Homo sapiens: one gene and its partners. The protein of the gene in region 4 purifies or fractionates together with the protein of the main gene of each other region. This does not show direct contact. Each region holds a gene or a part of one and is shown on either strand. Other genes may lie near its edges. The genes, in order: TRAFD1, FLVCR1, VPS13A, XKRX and FAM234B.

Evidence for each region.
Region 1: the proteins of XKRX (region 4) and TRAFD1 purify together in Homo sapiens (affinity purification with mass spectrometry; 2 studies listed by BioGRID and IntAct, with this or other methods). This does not show direct contact.
Region 2: the proteins of XKRX (region 4) and FLVCR1 purify together in Homo sapiens (affinity purification with mass spectrometry; 2 studies listed by BioGRID and IntAct, with this or other methods). This does not show direct contact.
Region 3: the proteins of XKRX (region 4) and VPS13A purify together in Homo sapiens (affinity purification with mass spectrometry; 2 studies listed by BioGRID and IntAct, with this or other methods). This does not show direct contact.
Region 5: the proteins of XKRX (region 4) and FAM234B purify together in Homo sapiens (affinity purification with mass spectrometry; 2 studies listed by BioGRID and IntAct, with this or other methods). This does not show direct contact.

The regions. Positions count from the first base shown.
Region 1 is NC_000012.12:112,151,817-112,154,109, reverse strand, and holds the end of TRAFD1 (TRAF-type zinc finger domain-containing protein 1), read right to left. Parts: coding exon 1,970-2,293; intron 1,684-1,969; coding exon 1,611-1,683; intron 1,376-1,610; coding exon 1,319-1,375; 3' UTR 506-1,318; downstream 1-505. UniProt on the Homo sapiens protein: Negative feedback regulator that controls excessive innate immune responses. Regulates both Toll-like receptor 4 (TLR4) and DDX58/RIG1-like helicases (RLH) pathways.
Region 2 is NC_000001.11:212,896,262-212,899,870, reverse strand, and holds the end of FLVCR1 (choline/ethanolamine transporter FLVCR1), read right to left. Parts: 3' UTR 508-3,609; downstream 1-507.
Region 3 is NC_000009.12:77,313,534-77,317,053, forward strand, and holds part of VPS13A (intermembrane lipid transfer protein VPS13A), read left to right. Parts: intron 1-458; coding exon 459-586; intron 587-961; coding exon 962-1,131; intron 1,132-1,719; coding exon 1,720-1,937; intron 1,938-2,640; coding exon 2,641-2,873; intron 2,874-3,520. UniProt on the Homo sapiens protein: Mediates the transfer of lipids between membranes at organelle contact sites. Binds phospholipids. Required for the formation or stabilization of ER-mitochondria contact sites which enable transfer of lipids between the ER and mitochondria.
Region 4 is NC_000023.11:100,926,104-100,930,283, forward strand, and holds the start of XKRX (XK-related protein 2), read right to left. Parts: upstream 2,815-4,180; 5' UTR 2,241-2,814; coding exon of another isoform or gene 2,202-2,240; coding exon 1,867-2,201; intron 1-1,866.
Region 5 is NC_000012.12:13,054,380-13,057,899, reverse strand, and holds part of FAM234B (protein FAM234B), read right to left. Parts: intron 2,350-3,520; coding exon 1,954-2,349; intron 1-1,953.

The DNA of each region.
Region 1 (2,293 bases), on a different chromosome or scaffold from region 4:
AGACCTGCCTCTGCAAAGAACTGGCCGCATGGTTCCCGTGTCTAGTGTTCCATCTATGAAATAGGGCAGTTCCTCCCACCTTTCCCACCCCAACAGGTTGTTGGAAGAACAAAGGAACTCAAAATGACCTACGGTGCTCAGTGGTCCTATGCAGACGGAGGCACTGAGGGGTAACAGCTAATCCTGCTAGGGCTCAACTCCTCTCAGGATGAAGGCTTTTGAAGAATCTGCTTTTCTCTATTCAGTCAGAGGCACCCCTTCTAGCCCCAGTCATCACCGGAGCTGCAGCAAGCCTGTCAGTTTTCTCAGAAGTCCAATTTAAAACACTACACGTTCAATGTCTGTGTACTCCAAGAAGGGACTCATGGTGGAGCTGCGAGGGTTACTGGAGTGCCGGAGAAAGCCCAGCCCTGCTCACCTCCTCCAACCCCAGGGCTGACTCCAGCCTACCCTGCCCTCCCTGCAGTCTCTAAAGCACACAGGAGAAGGAACCACAAGACTGAGCTGAACTCCAAGTACAAACTTTATTTCTATTACAAGGAAGTTAATAATTATTATAACAGTAAAATAAAAACAAGGGGAAGGGGCTCTGACACTTGGTTTTCAGAGCAAGTGTGGGGCTGGGGCAGAGCCCAACATACCTGCTGTGGGGACAGGGAGCCCTCAGCCCTCCCCATTAGAAAGCAGTGAGGACAAAAGATCCATGCTCCCCCGGGAACAGAAGGCAGTGATGCCAAATGCCAAGGAAGCAGCTTAAAACACAGCCCCCGGTCCACTCACCTCCAGCTCAACACATCAAAAGCCTCGTTACTGACAGACATTGCAACTGGCCTGAGCACCTTACCAGAGCGCCTCATACACACCTGGGGCCCAATCGAGTGTGGACAGACGCAGTACACGGAGAGGTTGCCCAAAAGCCCCCAAATTTAGGCCCCAACAGGGCAGAGAATCACCTTACTGGTGGCTACCAGGTTTCCAAAATCTTCCCCTCCTTCCACTGGGACCACACAGCACCAAGGGGCAGTGGCGACAATAAGTCAAAAGGGAGCCCTGGCAGCCGAGGCTGCAGCTTGTATTTCACTGCTGCCGAAAGGTAGCAGCTAAGGCTGAAGCGTTCCTCAACCGCCACCCTGCTCCCTTCCCTCAAACCCAAACCCCCACAGCACAACCTCAAAAGACACAAAATGGCCATAACCTAGAAAAATCTAAAATCTGGAAAAACTCTCCCACCCAAAGAGCCAAAGAGGTGGGCCTGCACAGCGGCAAGTGCTGCTGTGCACAGAAGACAGGAACCGATGTAAAGTCTCTGGAGACACCATTACTCCTCCTCTTCCTCTTCTGCATCCCCAGCTCCCTGTTGCTTGGAAGGCTTTGCCTGGTGAACAACACAACACAAACGAAGCTTTACATAAAAAGTGAAAAAGCATTACTCCTCCCCTGGATCCCCGAAAATGTCCCGCTTCCTTAGAAACCTCCTTCTCAAAAGCCAAAGGAACAATCTTTGAACCACAACCAGCCTGGTCCCAACAACTTCTACAACTTCAGGAGCCACACAAGCCCCACCATGTCTGAGTCCCCCACTGAGCATCATGGGCTGGAGCCCACCTTACCTTTGCAGTTCTGCTGCGGTAGTTGGCAGCTGCAGGGGTGACCCGGGAATTCCTGCCACCTTCACTCCTACCACTGAAAGAAAACAATTAGAAACTAGCTCCTGAAGTGTCCCTGAGCAAAGGTCAACAAACTCAGAGGGAACAGGAAGCAGTCCTATGCTAGCAGACAAACCCCAAAAAACCCATAGGCCACAAAATAATTTTTTTGGAGTCAGGTGACAATACAGGGAAAATCCATACTCCTCCCCTTACCATGCAAGTACCTCAGTCTTACCCCAGGCCTGGCAAGGGTAACCAGGCCTTTGCCCATGTTCGCTTCAGCTACTCCCAAGCCCCATTCCTGGGCTACTGATTCTTACCTAGCTCCGTATCTCCCTGAAGGCCCAGGGGAGAAAGAGGGCACAATGTTTTCTGGGTAGAGATTTTGAGGAGGGCGAATCACTGAAACGTGCCCAGGGGCTATGGCCCCATTCTGGCTGTCTCGATTCCGCCCCTGGATGTCCTGGCTGTCTGAGTTGCTGAGCTTCGGCACACAAGGAGAGCTGGGCTGGCACCCAGGTCTGGGGCCTGATGTTGATCTCGATAGCTGGTTATAGGTAGCTGTCATATTGTTAATGGGTCGGCTGGGAGGCAGACAGGAGGTGGGCCCATTAGCTGTTTCCTGCTTAGTATCATCCAGGTAA
Region 2 (3,609 bases), on a different chromosome or scaffold from region 4:
ACAGCTAGGGGCTGAGCACTCTCACTATGCTATCACCTTCTCCCATGGGAGAAATTGTGGACTGAGGGGAGTCTCTCTTGCCACTAAGCTGTGCCAACTTCAAAGAGTGATGCAGATAAAGTGAAAATCTTCTTCTTCCTTTTCTTTAATGCATTTATTCTCAGATATTTCTGCTCCAATGGTGTGCTGGAACTTCCACGTAGGACTTCTGGATTCCTACAAAAGAACTACCATCTGAAAGTACTGGTAAAAATCAATGCTTCTGTGGAAGAATGATGATATAAAGCTCCTATTCTGCCATCTTGCTAACATCACTCTCTAAAGTTACTTTTAAAGGAATAAAATATTTTAGTATCTATTTTAGCCCTGACCCTGGTAGACTTTGTTTCCTCATTTTATGTTCCATGCACTACCTCATTCCCTCTTTGCCCATTCTGAAATTTTATAATCCCTTTAAACTCCCCATGTGTACCTAAGCATCAGAATTTTTCAAAAAGTCACAGAAAATTAACATAAAAAAATAAATTTATTTTGAGTCTGAAATACTGAAGAACAAGCATACAGATAAATAGTACAAAGAACAAAAATTAGAACATGAGTAATGACTTAAGACACAGGCATTTTTCTAGCTATTGCATACAGACACATTTTTACACACAAACATATTTTTTAAAGACATCTCTCCAACATTCTCAAAAGGCAAGAGCTGTATTTGTGACATTTGTAATAAATGCAACAGCTTTTGAAACATCCAGTTTCTTTCCTAAGTCATTTGATTAAAATTCACACAAGTGATGATTACCTATTCCATTTTCTGAAAATACGACATACAGTCATGTTTCGATCAACAATTGACCACATATGACAGAGATCCTATAAGATTATAATGGAACTGAAAAATTCCTATCACCTAGTGATGCCACAGCCATTGTTACATTGTAGCACAATGTATTATCTGTTCTATGTTTAGATTACACAGATACCATTGTGTTACAGTTGCCTACAGTATTCAATACAGTACCATGCTGTACAGGTCTGTAGCCCAGAAGCGACAGACTTTGCCATCTAGCCCAGGTGTGCAGTAGGCTCTACCACCTAGGTTTGTGTAAGTACACTTCATGATGTTCACACAATGATGAAATCACCTAATGACAAATTTCTCAGAATGTAGCTCTGTCATGAAGTCACACATTACTGTAGAATTATAACATTCTTGCTTGACATATTACAGACAACTTTCACTCAAAATACAGAAAAATTATCAATTCATTTTGCATTGTCACATATTCCATCACCTTTCTAATCAACAAGGAAAAATAAACATAACATATATGTATATGCTTTTCAGAAATAAAGTATTCTAAATTTTATGTGTAATTTGTTCCAAACCTCAGGAACTCAACAAGTACATGATTATTTTAAACAACATTGATAGTTTAAAAATAAAAACATTTGGGGAGAGACCTTAAAATATATTTTTGGCCGTTTTTACCTGTAATGTAAATATCAAAGGAAGCTAATGATTGGACATACTCTGCTTGAGTTACCCTCAACTGACTAAAAAGGCTAAAAAGAAATGTAAAAGTCCGTTGTATCCATAAGGTAGCAATCACATTTGTTTATCCAATTGTCCAGGGAATTTTTCTCTGGCTGGATTCAAGTTCCTGTGATACAATAATTTGGTCTATTCCATGATTAATGGCATTTAATATTTTGGAAAGATCTTTGAGATCAAATTGAACACATTCATTTCATGGATGAGGAAAACGCTGCCCAGAGAGGTTTAATGATTTGTCCAGAGTTATAGGAACATACAGAAATACATCCAGGACATGGACACAGAGTTCCTGATTCTTAGTCAAATTCTTTAGATAACACATTCCCCAGGGTCAGATTCGACATAATTTACAGTCACTTGATTATAGAGAATGTTATAATTTCAATATATATCAATGCATATATTCTGCCTGATATAGTTGGGATACTTGTCCCTCCAATCTCACATTGAAATGTAATCCCCAATGTTGAAGGTTGGCCCTAATAGAAGGTGTTTGGGTCCTGCGGGTGGATCCCTCATGGCTTGGTGCTGTCCTTGCAGTAATGAGTGAGTTTTCACAAAATCTGGTTGTTTGAAGGTGTGTGGCACCTCCCTGCTCTCTTGCTCCTGCTTCGCCATGTGACATCTCTGCTCCCACTTAGCCTTTCACCATGAGTAAAGCTCCCTGAGGGCTCCCCAGAAGCCGAGCAGACACTGGTGCCATGCTTACACAGCCTGCAGAACTGTGAGCCACTTAAACCTCTTTTATTTATAAATTACCCAGTCTCAGGTATTTCTGTTCTTTTTTTCCTGAAACAGAGTCTCGCTCTGTCACCCAGGCTGGAGTGCAGTGGCGCAATCTCAGCTCACTGTAGCCTCCGCCTTCCAGGTTCAGGCAATTCTCATGCCTCAGCTTCCCAAGAAGCTGGGACTACAGGCGTGTGCCACCATGCCCGGCTAATTTGTGTGTGTGTGTGTGTGTGTATGTATTTTTAGTAGAGATGGGGTTTTGCCATGTTGGCCAGACTGGTCTTCAACTCCTGGCCTCAAATGATCCACCCACCTCAGCCTCCCAAAGTGCTGGGACTATAGGTGTGAGCCATCGTGCTCAACCTCAGGTTTTATTTATTTATTTATTTATTTATTTATTTATTTATTTATTTATTTGAGACAGTCTCACTTTATCTCCCAGGCTGGAGTGCAGTAGTGTGATTTTCGCTCACTGCAACCTCTGCCATTCGCATTCAAGCGATTCTCCTGCCTCAGCCTCCTGAGTAGCTGGGATTACAGGCGCCTGCCACTGCGCTAATTTTTGTATTTTTAGTAGAGATGGGGTTTCACCATCTTGGCCAGGCTGGTTTTGAACTCCTGACTTTGTGATCCACCTGCCTTGGCCTCCCAAAGTGCTGAGATTACAGGCATGAGCCACAGCACTGCGCCTGGCCTTTTTTTTTTTTTTTTTTTTTTTTTTTTTTTTTAGTAGAGATGGGGTTTTACCATGTTGGCCAGGCTGGTCTTGAACTCCTGACCTCAGGTGATCCACACGCTTCAGCCTCCCAAAGTGCTGGGATTACAGGCGTGAGCCACCACGCCCAGCCTAAATATTTCTTTATAGCAATGCAAGGATGGCCTAACACACTGCCTAAATCAAAATTGCTATTCACTTCAAGGGTATTCATTACCTGACTAGCTTTTTTGGGTGCATATGAACATAATGTAAATTTTATGGCTGATCAAATGTCATTACTATGAAGATACTCCCTATGAGCTCACAGAGTCAGGACATCAACAATATTTAAACTCTCACTGTAAACATGACACAGTGGTAGGCACTGTGGAAATATATTTGGTCCTATTTTCCCTACCTGAGCATGTAAAAGAGCAGACTATTCTAACAGTGTGATGACTCTGCAGTGAAGAAAAGAATCCACTCTCCCGGCACACTGATAGAGCATGTACCTGGGCATAGTATTCCTCAAAGGAGAATGGTCATAAAAATGATACTGCAGAATTCAAATAGCATTCAAGAGGTCTCCACTAAATGGGGACATGTAGGCTATCTGAAGTTATTA
Region 3 (3,520 bases), on a different chromosome or scaffold from region 4:
TGATTCAAAATTCAAATGTAGAAAACAAATTTTGAATTCTTCTGATTAGTAGAAAAATTTTAAAAATGTCTCTTGGTTTTAGTTTTTTAAAGTAAAATTTGAATACTGAATTATGTGCCAGTTACTGTAATATGCATTTTACATGTGCTATTTTACTTAATCTCCAAACATACTCAGTGATTAGTTCTATTTTTCCTTGGAACAGAACAGAAGTAGGAACAGAAGCATCAAGAGGAAATAGAAACACCAAGTGTTCAATTAATATTCCCAAATTATTATGGAAAGAGTCCTAAGCCAGAAGTTACTGAGTTTTACATCTGAATTTTCTAATATTTTATTTTCTTGAATGTCATTTTACTATACCTGTTTAATAATTCTATTAAATCTATTTCAAGGGTATTTTAATGAGCTACTTTTCATGATATTTTCTTTTATTAAATAACTTTAATTTTTTCAAGGAGCAACTGTGGTGACAGCTGCTGTGGTAGAAGTACATTCACGTGCCTTACTAGTTAAGACAACACTAAACATAAGCTTCAAAACTGATGATCTCACCATGGTGCTGTATAGTCCAGGTCCTAAACAGGTAAGTCCAGGAAGAAAAGAAAATGTATTTTCACATGTGAAATTTGCATAGGTTGATGTTTTTAAAGTAACAAATGTTAATATTTAACATTTATTTTGTAGTATCTGTCCCTCTGAGAAAAATGATCTTTTTACTTTAATAATAATTATAACTATTTCCCTTTTAAATGAGTTATCTATCATATAGCTAATGTGAAAAATAAATTGTAAAATTAAAGTGATATGTATATATTTTTAGCCTTTCATTAGAGCCCTTCGGAGACAGAATTTTGATGTTTGTTATAAGCAGAGGCAATAATTTGTAGTAGTTCATATCATGAAATACACTTTAGACTTGTGTTTCTTTGTAATTTTGTGTTGGTTTCTCCTTTCATAGGCTTCCTTTACAGATGTTCGTGATCCTTCTCTGAAACTTGCTGAATTTAAATTGGAGAATATTATAAGTACTTTAAAAATGTATACAGATGGCTCAACATTTTCTTCCTTCTCATTAAAAAACTGTATTTTAGATGATAAAAGACCTCATGTCAAGAAAGCAACTCCTCGGTATGTATTGTAATGATGTTCTAAGGTTTTACTTGAGAAATCGTTGATATATTTTACAGAATTCATCTCCAGAATTGCACGTTCATTTTCTGAGTGCATCCTAGGTTCTTTAAAGCTTCAATTCAGTCAGCTCGTAGTACTCGGTTAACATTTAAAATGTCCTGGTTCTGTTATGTACTATTCTTACTGGATAATTGATAGATTGGTTGAGTAACTAGAAATAATCAGTGCAATTAAATTGGTTTTTACATTCTTTAAATTACATTCTCTAATATAAATCTAATATAAGTTATTGTTAATCCATGCTAATTGCAATGGGAAGTACATAAAAAATTGAAAAGAAAAAATATCCTGAGATTCAAACTCTTATAATTTATTGAACATACACTTCCTCATTTATGATACATTTGTGTTCCAGAAGTTTGTAAGTTTGTTATTTGGAACACTTTATGGATCTTCCCAAGAGACATGACTTCAGAATGCTTTTTTTTGTCAGTAAAAGAGATAAGAGGTCTTTGAGTTTTACTCATATGTTTGATTACTTCTAAGTTACTCATACATAGGAATTGTTGTTATTGTGTTTTCCAGAATGATAGGACTGACAGTTGGTTTTGACAAAAAAGACATGATGGATATAAAGTACAGGAAAGTCAGAGATGGTTGTGTGACTGATGCGGTCTTTCAAGAAATGTATATTTGTGCAAGCGTAGAATTTCTGCAGACTGTTGCAAATGTCTTTCTTGAGGCCTACACCACAGGCACTGCTGTAGAAACCAGTGTGCAAACATGGACTGCTAAGGAAGAAGGTTAGTTATTGGCTAAAATATTTAATATTTGTTTTATTGAAGTGCTACAACAGGACTTAACCTTGATTAGCCTTTTAGATCATCAAAGTAAATGCTTTAAGAAATTAAAATTTTATTTTTCAGAGTAGAAGGAAAACCTTAATGTGTTTTCTTGGAGGATGTATAGTTTGCATTTTTTAAAGGTGTCAGTATATATTGCATTTAAAAATTATGAAACCTATGTTAGAATAAGTAATTGTACTTCTCTTCAGGCAGTAATTTGAAGGAATTTGTCTAGTGGAAAAAAACAAGCAGAGCAAATAATGAACCAACCATACCTTTTCACAATTAAGATAATATTTCAATTTAAAGCACTCATTTATTTTTGTTGTATTTATTCCTAGCTTTTAACGTACGGTTTCTCTATTATCTTTTTATAATATGTGATTTACTGTGGTATAGTAGAAAGAGTATCAAGTTGAGAGTTAGAAACTAGATTAGTTTCTAGGCTTTCCAATTAAATAGTGGAGATTTCCCCTCATTTAAAAATGTTCTTATGCCTATAGCTTCTTCAAGTCTTTACTAAGGGTTGTAGTTGATTCCTTTGGGATCTAAGATTCTTTTGTTTTACTTTTTACTATTATTTCATTTTAATATTTTCTTATAAATAATAAATTATTCATAATATATAGCAAATATTTTAATCTATTTTTATTTGTTTTAGTACCTACACAGGAATCAGTGAAGTGGGAAATTAATGTTATTATTAAAAATCCTGAAATTGTGTTTGTAGCTGACATGACAAAAAATGATGCTCCTGCTTTAGTCATTACAACACAATGTGAAATTTGCTATAAAGGTAACCTTGAAAATAGTACAATGACTGCTGCCATTAAAGATCTCCAAGTGAGAGCCTGCCCGTTTCTTCCAGTCAAGAGAAAAGGCAAAATCACTACTGTGAGTTAACTATTTGATCATCTGCTTAATTGTAACTATTTTGGATGTAGTGTATACCATTTTAGGAAACAAAAACTACCTACATGCTTTCCAACCTTGCTCTGTAAAATGTCTTTCTCTCTGCTTAGAGAGCTTAATTTAGAATATTATTTACCAGCTTTGAAACTCTTTCATTCTTCCAGATGCTGCTCATTATTGTTAGTATTTGTGGGAATATTGTCACTAAGAAGTTGGGTTCATCTTGACAGTTTTCAGTTAAGATCTACTTTGACTTTCTAACCATGTCAATTCCAAATTGCTCTTTGGACTTTTAAGACTTTCTGCCAGTTGTTTGCTGTGTTGTTTCAATTTTATTGTTTCAACTTTTTTCTCCCGTTTGGATGTTTTTGCTCAAATAATGAGTTTTTCCTTGTCTCCATGTAACTTCATTTGAACCTTCAGCCATTTGCTTTGACATACTTCACATTGATATTTTACTCTCTAGTAACCTCTTGGCCTTCCTCCTCTTCATAACTCTACTTAAAATTCATTCCTTTACAGACATCTTTTCAAGTTAACTGGCTGACTTCCAGCGAATACTTACAAAAATATTTGAGCTTCTGAAGGAGTAATAGAAGCATAAGTTTTTGTTTGTTTCTTTGTATTTT
Region 4 (4,180 bases):
ATTTATCATCTCACACAAGGCTACTGTTTTTTCTTATACTAGGCCTGCTTCATTCATTTATGATACCTGCCTGGTCCCTGCAAGTGTTTGAGTTTGAGACCCATGATTTAGACTAACCCATTTGCTTTACAGATGAGGGAACTCTATATGCCTTCCTGTGAAGCCATCTTCAGAGATTTTACCAAGAACACACAACCAGTCAATGACAGGGGGAAGACTAGACTCCAAATTTCAGGCCACTGTTTCCATTGATATCCCATATTCTCTCTGATAGAGCCTAATCGATTCCTCCCCACTTAAAAATTTATTGATAAAAAATTTTTTTGGCCTTATTGAGGTATAAGTGACAAATAAAAATTATACATGTGTACAGATATGAAATTTTATAAAGGAGTGAGTTCCATCCTTAATTAGTTTCACAGACTTTTTAGTTGTCTAATGATGAGGTATCTTCCCATTGCAACACTCTGACCCATATTCCTCGGCTGACTGCAGTTGTCTGCCTCTCTTGCAATCAAGACAAACTTGGTCCATTCCTTACTCCTGAACTCATAAGTTTTGCAACATCTCTCTACCTTGAAAACCCCATAGCATCCAGATGAGACTGTTGACACAGGTGCCTATCTCGCTAGGATTAAGTGCATTCTTTCCACTTCAAGGCAATCTGAATGGAAATACTTGATACTATTAAATTGTGCTACTGCATCCACATAGAGAGATGAACTGCCTTCCTTTGCCCCCTCCCAACTTCGTATCTTTATTGCAGAAATATACAAAGAGATAAATAGGAAACTGATAAACCGACAGAGAACTGAACTATATTGGGTTGGGGTACAGATTACCACAGATGGTTTAAAATAGTTTCCAGATGTCACATTACTCTGGAAAATTTGAAAATGGCAGTAGCACCAGCCCAAGCAGCTCAGGGTAAAGAAACTTTTATCCAATTTACAAAGCATCCAAAAGGTAGAGTCAAAATTACACACTCAGACCAGGCGCGGTGGCTCACTTTGGGAGGCTGAGGCAGGAAGATCACTTGAGCCCAGTCTACATAACGAGATCCCGTCTCTACAAAAAAAATTTTTTTTTTTTTGAGATGGAGTCTCACTCTATCGCCCAGGCTGGAGTGCAGTGGCACCGATCTTGGCTCACTGCAACCTCTACCTTCCGGGTTCAAGTGATTCTCCTGCCTCAGCCACCAGAGTAGCTGGGATTACAGATATGCGCCACCACACCCAGCTGATTTTTAGTAGAGACAGGGGTTTCACCATGTTGGCCAGCTGGTCTTGAACTCCTGACCTCAGGTGATCCACCCGCCTCAGCCTCCCAAAGTGCTGGGATTACAGGCATGAGCCACCACACCCGGCCTATAAAAATTTTTTTTTAATTAACCAGGCATGGTGACACATTCCTTTGGTCCCAGCTACTTGGAGGCTGAGGTGGGAGGTTCGCTTGATCCCAGGAGATCAAGGCTGCAGTGAGCCATGATCGCACCACTGCACTGTAGCCTGGGAGGCAGAGCAAGACCTTGTCTCAGAAAAAAAAAATTTTTTAAATAAAATTACACACTCTGCAGCTATGGCCTTCATGCACAGGGTGATCACGTCTTGTTGTTCCCATTCTAGTTTACACAGGCCAAATAGCATCGTTCATTGTTTTGGAACACAAGTACATACCACATGTTCATCATGGTGGCATTTAAGATTTCAGGTAAGTTTTCTGAATGGTAGACAGGGAAGCCGAGAGTGGGAGGAAATGAGAGAATTGATTAGAGCCATAGTATCCATCTTGTAAATCTTTCATCTTTCTCTGCCCAAGTCTGGGGTGGGGTTAGGGGGGTAAGGAAAAGATTTAAAAGTTGCTCACCTGATAACAGGTCCCAAGAGGATTAGATGCATAAATAATGATAGCGGTTTATCTTTGGCTAGATCTCTGTGGACAAAAATGAGGGTCAACTGGACCATAATGGATGAAAACATAAAGAAAGAAAAGGTGTATGTCATCCAGTAAGTTTCACTATTCTTTCGATAGATTCTAACCATGTACAAAGCAGATGCAGCCTCCCCACAGTACAAAAAGGTGGAGAAAAGGATGCTAAATGGAAAAGTAAATCGGGGGTTGGCTCCACGGATGACATCTTCCTCCAGAGATGAAACCGGATCCACATTTGGCTCCTCAGGAATTTCATAAACTCTGTCCATTGTCGAGGTTCTTTCTGAATGTTGTGGTCTTGTGTTCATAGCACCCTCCCACCCATCCCCAAGAGAACCCTATGGCCGCTACAGTCCAAGTATAGGTGAGGAGAGCTCTGTCAAGTCCAGTTTGGGAACAGAGATTCACTAGTTAGAGCAAGAAACCGCTCTCTTCTAGACTCAGATTCGACTTGGAGTCTGGGATGGAAAGCCCAGGAGTACCACTTTGAACTTGACTCTTGATTGGCCCCGATTCCAATCGTCAACATACTTGCTGTGAAACTTGAACAAGACAAAAGCAAGCATCCCAGCGCCCCATCCAGAGTCCAACTCCAGGGACGTGAAGAGTCATGAGAACAGCGGCTTCCGTGGCGGCTCCTTTCGCAGCCCCTCAGGCAGGGTGTAGCCGATCTGTCGGGGGCACCGACACTCAGCAGCTCCTCACAAAGAGTCCTGACCAGTGTGTCCTCTCAAGTCAGCGGAGAGCTGAGCCAGGGCAGAAGAGCGGGCGCAGAAGAAGGAGGGCAGAAGAGGGGATTCAGTTCAGTGCCTAGGTATCCTAGCTATTGCTAGGCTGTAGCTATCAGCTGGCCCGCTCACCTGCGCGCTCTCAGGACCTTTGCCGAGTCCAGGGTTCTCAGGATAGCTCCTCGGATTCCCCCAAGCCCCGCCCCCAAGACCGCCTGGCCCGGGAGTGGAGTATTGTCACCACCCTGTCTCCGAATGCAGTGTTGAGGGACAGAAGCAGAGCGCGCTCGCTCTACAGGATGAAGAAAAGGCTGGAGGGGCTGCTTCTCCTCGGAGAAACTTTGCTAGTGAGAGGCACGATGTGCGGGGCGCCAACCTGGCTGGACGGAGGTCGCCAAACTCTTGGACGCCGTCTGCTGCCAGGGTCCTGCCTGGTCTGCGATTCCAGCTGCGAGAGGTCGGCAGCTTCAAAAACTAAGGCACCGGGACGGCGGGGGCGGGCGAGATGGGCGGGACGGCTGCGGCCAAACAAAACCAGCCGGAGAGTTCCCGGGCAGGCGGCCAGCCGAGGGATGCTCGTTGTGGAGTGGCGGGACAAAAAGGGGCTTGGGCCGCTCTTCAGAAGCACTTCTGACCACCACCTCCAGACCCAGGCAGGAGCCACAGCTTTACTCCTCCCTAGGAGCAGCAGGCCCCCACTTCTACCCCGCCCTCCCTAACTAGTTAAGTGACTTGCTTCAACACTCACTCTACCCACGCTGTTAGGCAGGTGTGTCTCCCTCCGCCGCAGGGTGGAACCTCCCTAGGTCCTATTGCCCTCCAGATAATATCATGAAGGGGGAACCTGGGAGGAATAGGGTCAGAGTTTTCGGCGGAGGGAAGATAGAACAGGATAAAGGTCAAGACTCAAGGTCAGCCCACAGACACTGAAAGCTCATATTTTATGCCTTGATTTCTCCACTTGCAAAATGAGGCCAGGATAGGAGCTTTAGAATGAACTTACAGGTCTTTGGTTGAAAGGTTATGAAGAGGTGCCAAATTCTAAACAGACTGGCAAAGAGCCAAGAGAGAGCTGTTAGTAAAAACTGAGAGGGGTGTCTTAAAGAGCTTTGAAAATTACCTGTATTCTTAAGTGTAATCCTCCCCACCTCACTGAGCTTTTGTTTTCATATCTTCATTTGCATAATTCTAAACCTCAGAGAAAAAGAGAACACATCTGCCTCCTGGTAATAATATAGATGAAGGCCAGGCACAGTGGTTCACGCCTGTAATCCCAGCACTTTGGGAGGCTGAGGCAGGCAGATCACTTGAGGTCAGGAGTTCGAAACCAGCCTGGCCAACGTGGTGAAACCCCATCTCTACTAAAAATACAAAAATCAGCTGGTCGTGGTGGTGCGTGACTGTAATCCCAGCTACTCAGGAGGCTGAGGCAGGAGAAAAACTTGAACCCGGACGGCAGAGGTTGCAGTGAGCTGAGATCACGCCACTGCACTCCAGCCTGGGCAACAGAGCAAGATTAC
Region 5 (3,520 bases), on a different chromosome or scaffold from region 4:
CACCACCACCACCATCAGGGTCATGTCAGAGAAAGCCAGGTGGGGGCAAGGACTGTCATCCTCATCTAGCAGGACCAAAGGAGTTCCACCCCAACTAGCATCAACAAGGCAGCCCTCTCCCTCCTCTCCACGGGGGTGGTGTCAGCAGAGGCCTAGTGAGGAGTCTGGACTTCCATCCCCCCACCACCCAAAAGTGTGGACTCAGAGGATGCCCACCAAATTTGGAGAGAATTCACACATTGCTAGTGGAAATGTAAATCGGTACAACCATGTTGGAAAATAATTTAACATAAACTGCTAATAATGAACATGCACACACCCTATGGTATGATCCAGCAATTTTACTCCTAGGTTTATGCCTTAGATAAATTCTTATACACTGCAATAGGAAACATATACAAAAATGTTCTTAGCAGCATCATTTATTTATTTAAAAAAAAAAAGACTGGAAGCATTACTTAAAGGTTCATCAACAGAAAAATGGATAAATCATGAGATATTCATACCATGGAAAAATCAGACAGTAGTGAAAATGAATAAACTCCAGGTATAATGCATCAATATAGATGAATCTCAATAAATTGTTTTCAAAAAATTAAGTGGCACAAAGAAGCAGGTCACAGGCTGGGTGCAGTGGCTCACAACTATAATCCCAGCACTTTGGGAGGCCGAGGTGGGTGGATCACCTGAGGTCAGGAGTTCAAGATCAGCCTGGCCAAAATGGCAAAACCCCGTCTCTACTGAAAATACAAAAATTAGCCAGGCATGGTGGCGAGCTCCTGCAATCCCAGCTACACGGGAGGCTAAGGCACAAAAATCACCTGAACGCGGGAGGTGAAGCCTGCAGTAAGCCGAGATCATGCCACTGCACCCCAGCCTGGGTGACAGAGCAAGACTCTGTCGCAAAAAAAAAAAAAAAAAGCAGTTCACAGAAGACTGCATGATTAAATTCATGTAAAATTTAAAAACCAGCAAAAGTAATGAATATACAGTTTAGGGGTACATATTGACATGGTAAAACTTTACAGAAAAAGGAATAATCAACACAAAATTCAGGATAGCAGAGGCCTTTGCTGGGCAGAGGAGGATGTGGTCAGGAGGGACACACAAGAGATTGTGAAGGTCTCAATGATGTTCTATTTCTAAAGCTGGGTGGTAGACACACCAACAATTTGTTACCTTTAAACTGTATATAAATATATGTAAATGAAACTTGCCTTCAGAGAAACTAAAGATGAGAACACAGAACTCATCAGAAGCTAATTCAACTGGGATCAGAGAAGTGGCAGAGATAAACATTTCTAGATCAAGAGGATGCCAGGGGTCTGAGGATAGCTTAATCCAGTTCACAAGAGACAGGACTACTCAACACAGGTGAGATGTAAGTCCCATTCCAGAGCAAGAGGTTTTAAAGAAGCCTACTCCAAAAAGGAGACAGAATAGCTGGAATTACTCAGACAGCACCGCCCTAACCATGAGGAGCAAGAAAGAAAAGATAGCAACTATCTTTTACAGGAAATGAAATTATTTTATAATTTAAATTAGATCAGACCTCTATCATCAAAGAATGTCAAAGGGTTCTGCAAGAGCTCTATCCCTGGTGCAACCAGGCCTTGAACCTTGCTTTTCTCTGTAAATAGCCCTTCCTACAGCTTTGCATTCCCCTGATACAGTGCTGGCTCCACAGCAGGAATCCAGCAAACCAGCCCTGTCCTCTCTGGATCTAATAAAGACCAATGCCAACAGACACAACAGAGCAATGATTCCCAGGTTTTTGGAGGTGTTTGTTTTCTTTCAAATCTTAATCTCCTTGCCACCTCCACACAGTGGGGACGGCAGGGTGGGGAATGCCGCATGACACATATTAAGTTTTAAGATTTGGAGGAAAATTTAAATGTAATCAGACATAGCATGAAGTTTCACAGGATTAGGGCTGAAGATTCTGCAGCTCACCTCCCTGGGAGCCCAAGTGGCGGCTCCAGGTGCTGTGCAGATCTCTGGGAGGACAGGGGATCAGGAAAGCACACAGGAGCACCAGGATCATCGAGATCCCCAAAGTCAGCAGGAAGACAGACGTGCGCACATATGACACCAGGGAGGAGGCCGCCTTCTGTTCCAGGCCCCCAAGGGGTTCTGAGGGGTAGCCCTCCGTGGTGACTTCTGAAAGATGTGGCTTTGCAGCCTCTGCAACCTCAGCATCTGAGTCGGGTTCTGGCGCTTCTCCCAAAGGACTCTTCCCATTTTTGACCCCTCCATTCTTCTGCAGGTTAAGCACCAGATCGTCTTCGCTCTCATCACTGTCAGCCTGGGTAAGTGGATCATACTCCCCTAGGTCTGGGCTCTTCTTCCCTGAAAATACAGAAAAACAGAGAGTCAAGGGGAACTGGGGAGAAGACACCCTCACCAAATATATGGCAACTGTAAATACCCAGAAGAACACGGAAAACTAAAACAAAAAAATCCAGGTTTACATCAAGTTTGAACCTTGGTGGCTATCTGTAAAACAGAAGCCAGTGAAGCAGGGGTTAGGAATGGAAGGAAAAACAAAAGCACAGTGCTCCAGGATCACTGCCTGCATGAGTTTAAGACAATGGAAAAGGAGGCAGAAGTTAGCAAATTTAAAATGCCTTTAGTTTAAAAAGAAAGCTCTCTTAATGTGTTTGAATCTCACTCAAGAAAAAGATCATGGCTCCACATCAACTCTCCATGTGCCTAATGTGCATATTGCCTCAGATCTTCTTAGATCTGTGACATCCTAATCTTTCCTGGTAAACTTTTAGAACAATTCTTCTCCATACGCTGCTTCTCACAGCCCAATATCTGTGGCTTCCCAACTGTTTCTATGGAAACAACTTAGAAAGTTGAACACTGAATGTTCATCTGAAGATGTATTGAAATCTCACTTCTAAGAACCATCCTGTGATTTGAATGCCCTTTCAGTCTATCTTTTAGTAAACAGTGTTTACCCCAAAAACTGCTCTTCTGAGCAAGTATTCTGGGAGGGGTGGTGATCTAGCCAGTACACAGAGGTAGGGGACTTGTCTTGAAGGTGCTTTGCATGGCAAGCACTTTGTTTTTACTTAGCTTGCAGTGTTGATTTGGGATAGCTGAGAGAGAAATTACAGAAGAGCCTAGGTACACCTCCTCCCAAGCCACCCACCCCTTGGCCTCACTGCCAATGACTGAATGATTTTATGCCTTTATTTCATGTTACCACCAAGTAACAACCAAGAAAATGTTTCTTTTGGGGAGACTTTATGCAGTAATCTATCACTAATGTAAACTCTATCATTAAATCTTTTGTTCAGAAGAAATATAAAAAAGACCACAAAACCCAGCTAATTAAAAAGGGGAAAAGAATAATTATTAATGCTAGTGTCTACCTCTGGGTCACTATGGCCTTGGTGATGTCATTTCATACATTATATCTCAGTTTGTTCAATTAATAAAATGAAAGAATAAAACACTATATGGAGACCAGATTGTTGCGGGAAGGCAAGGACCCCAAATGGAGGGACCA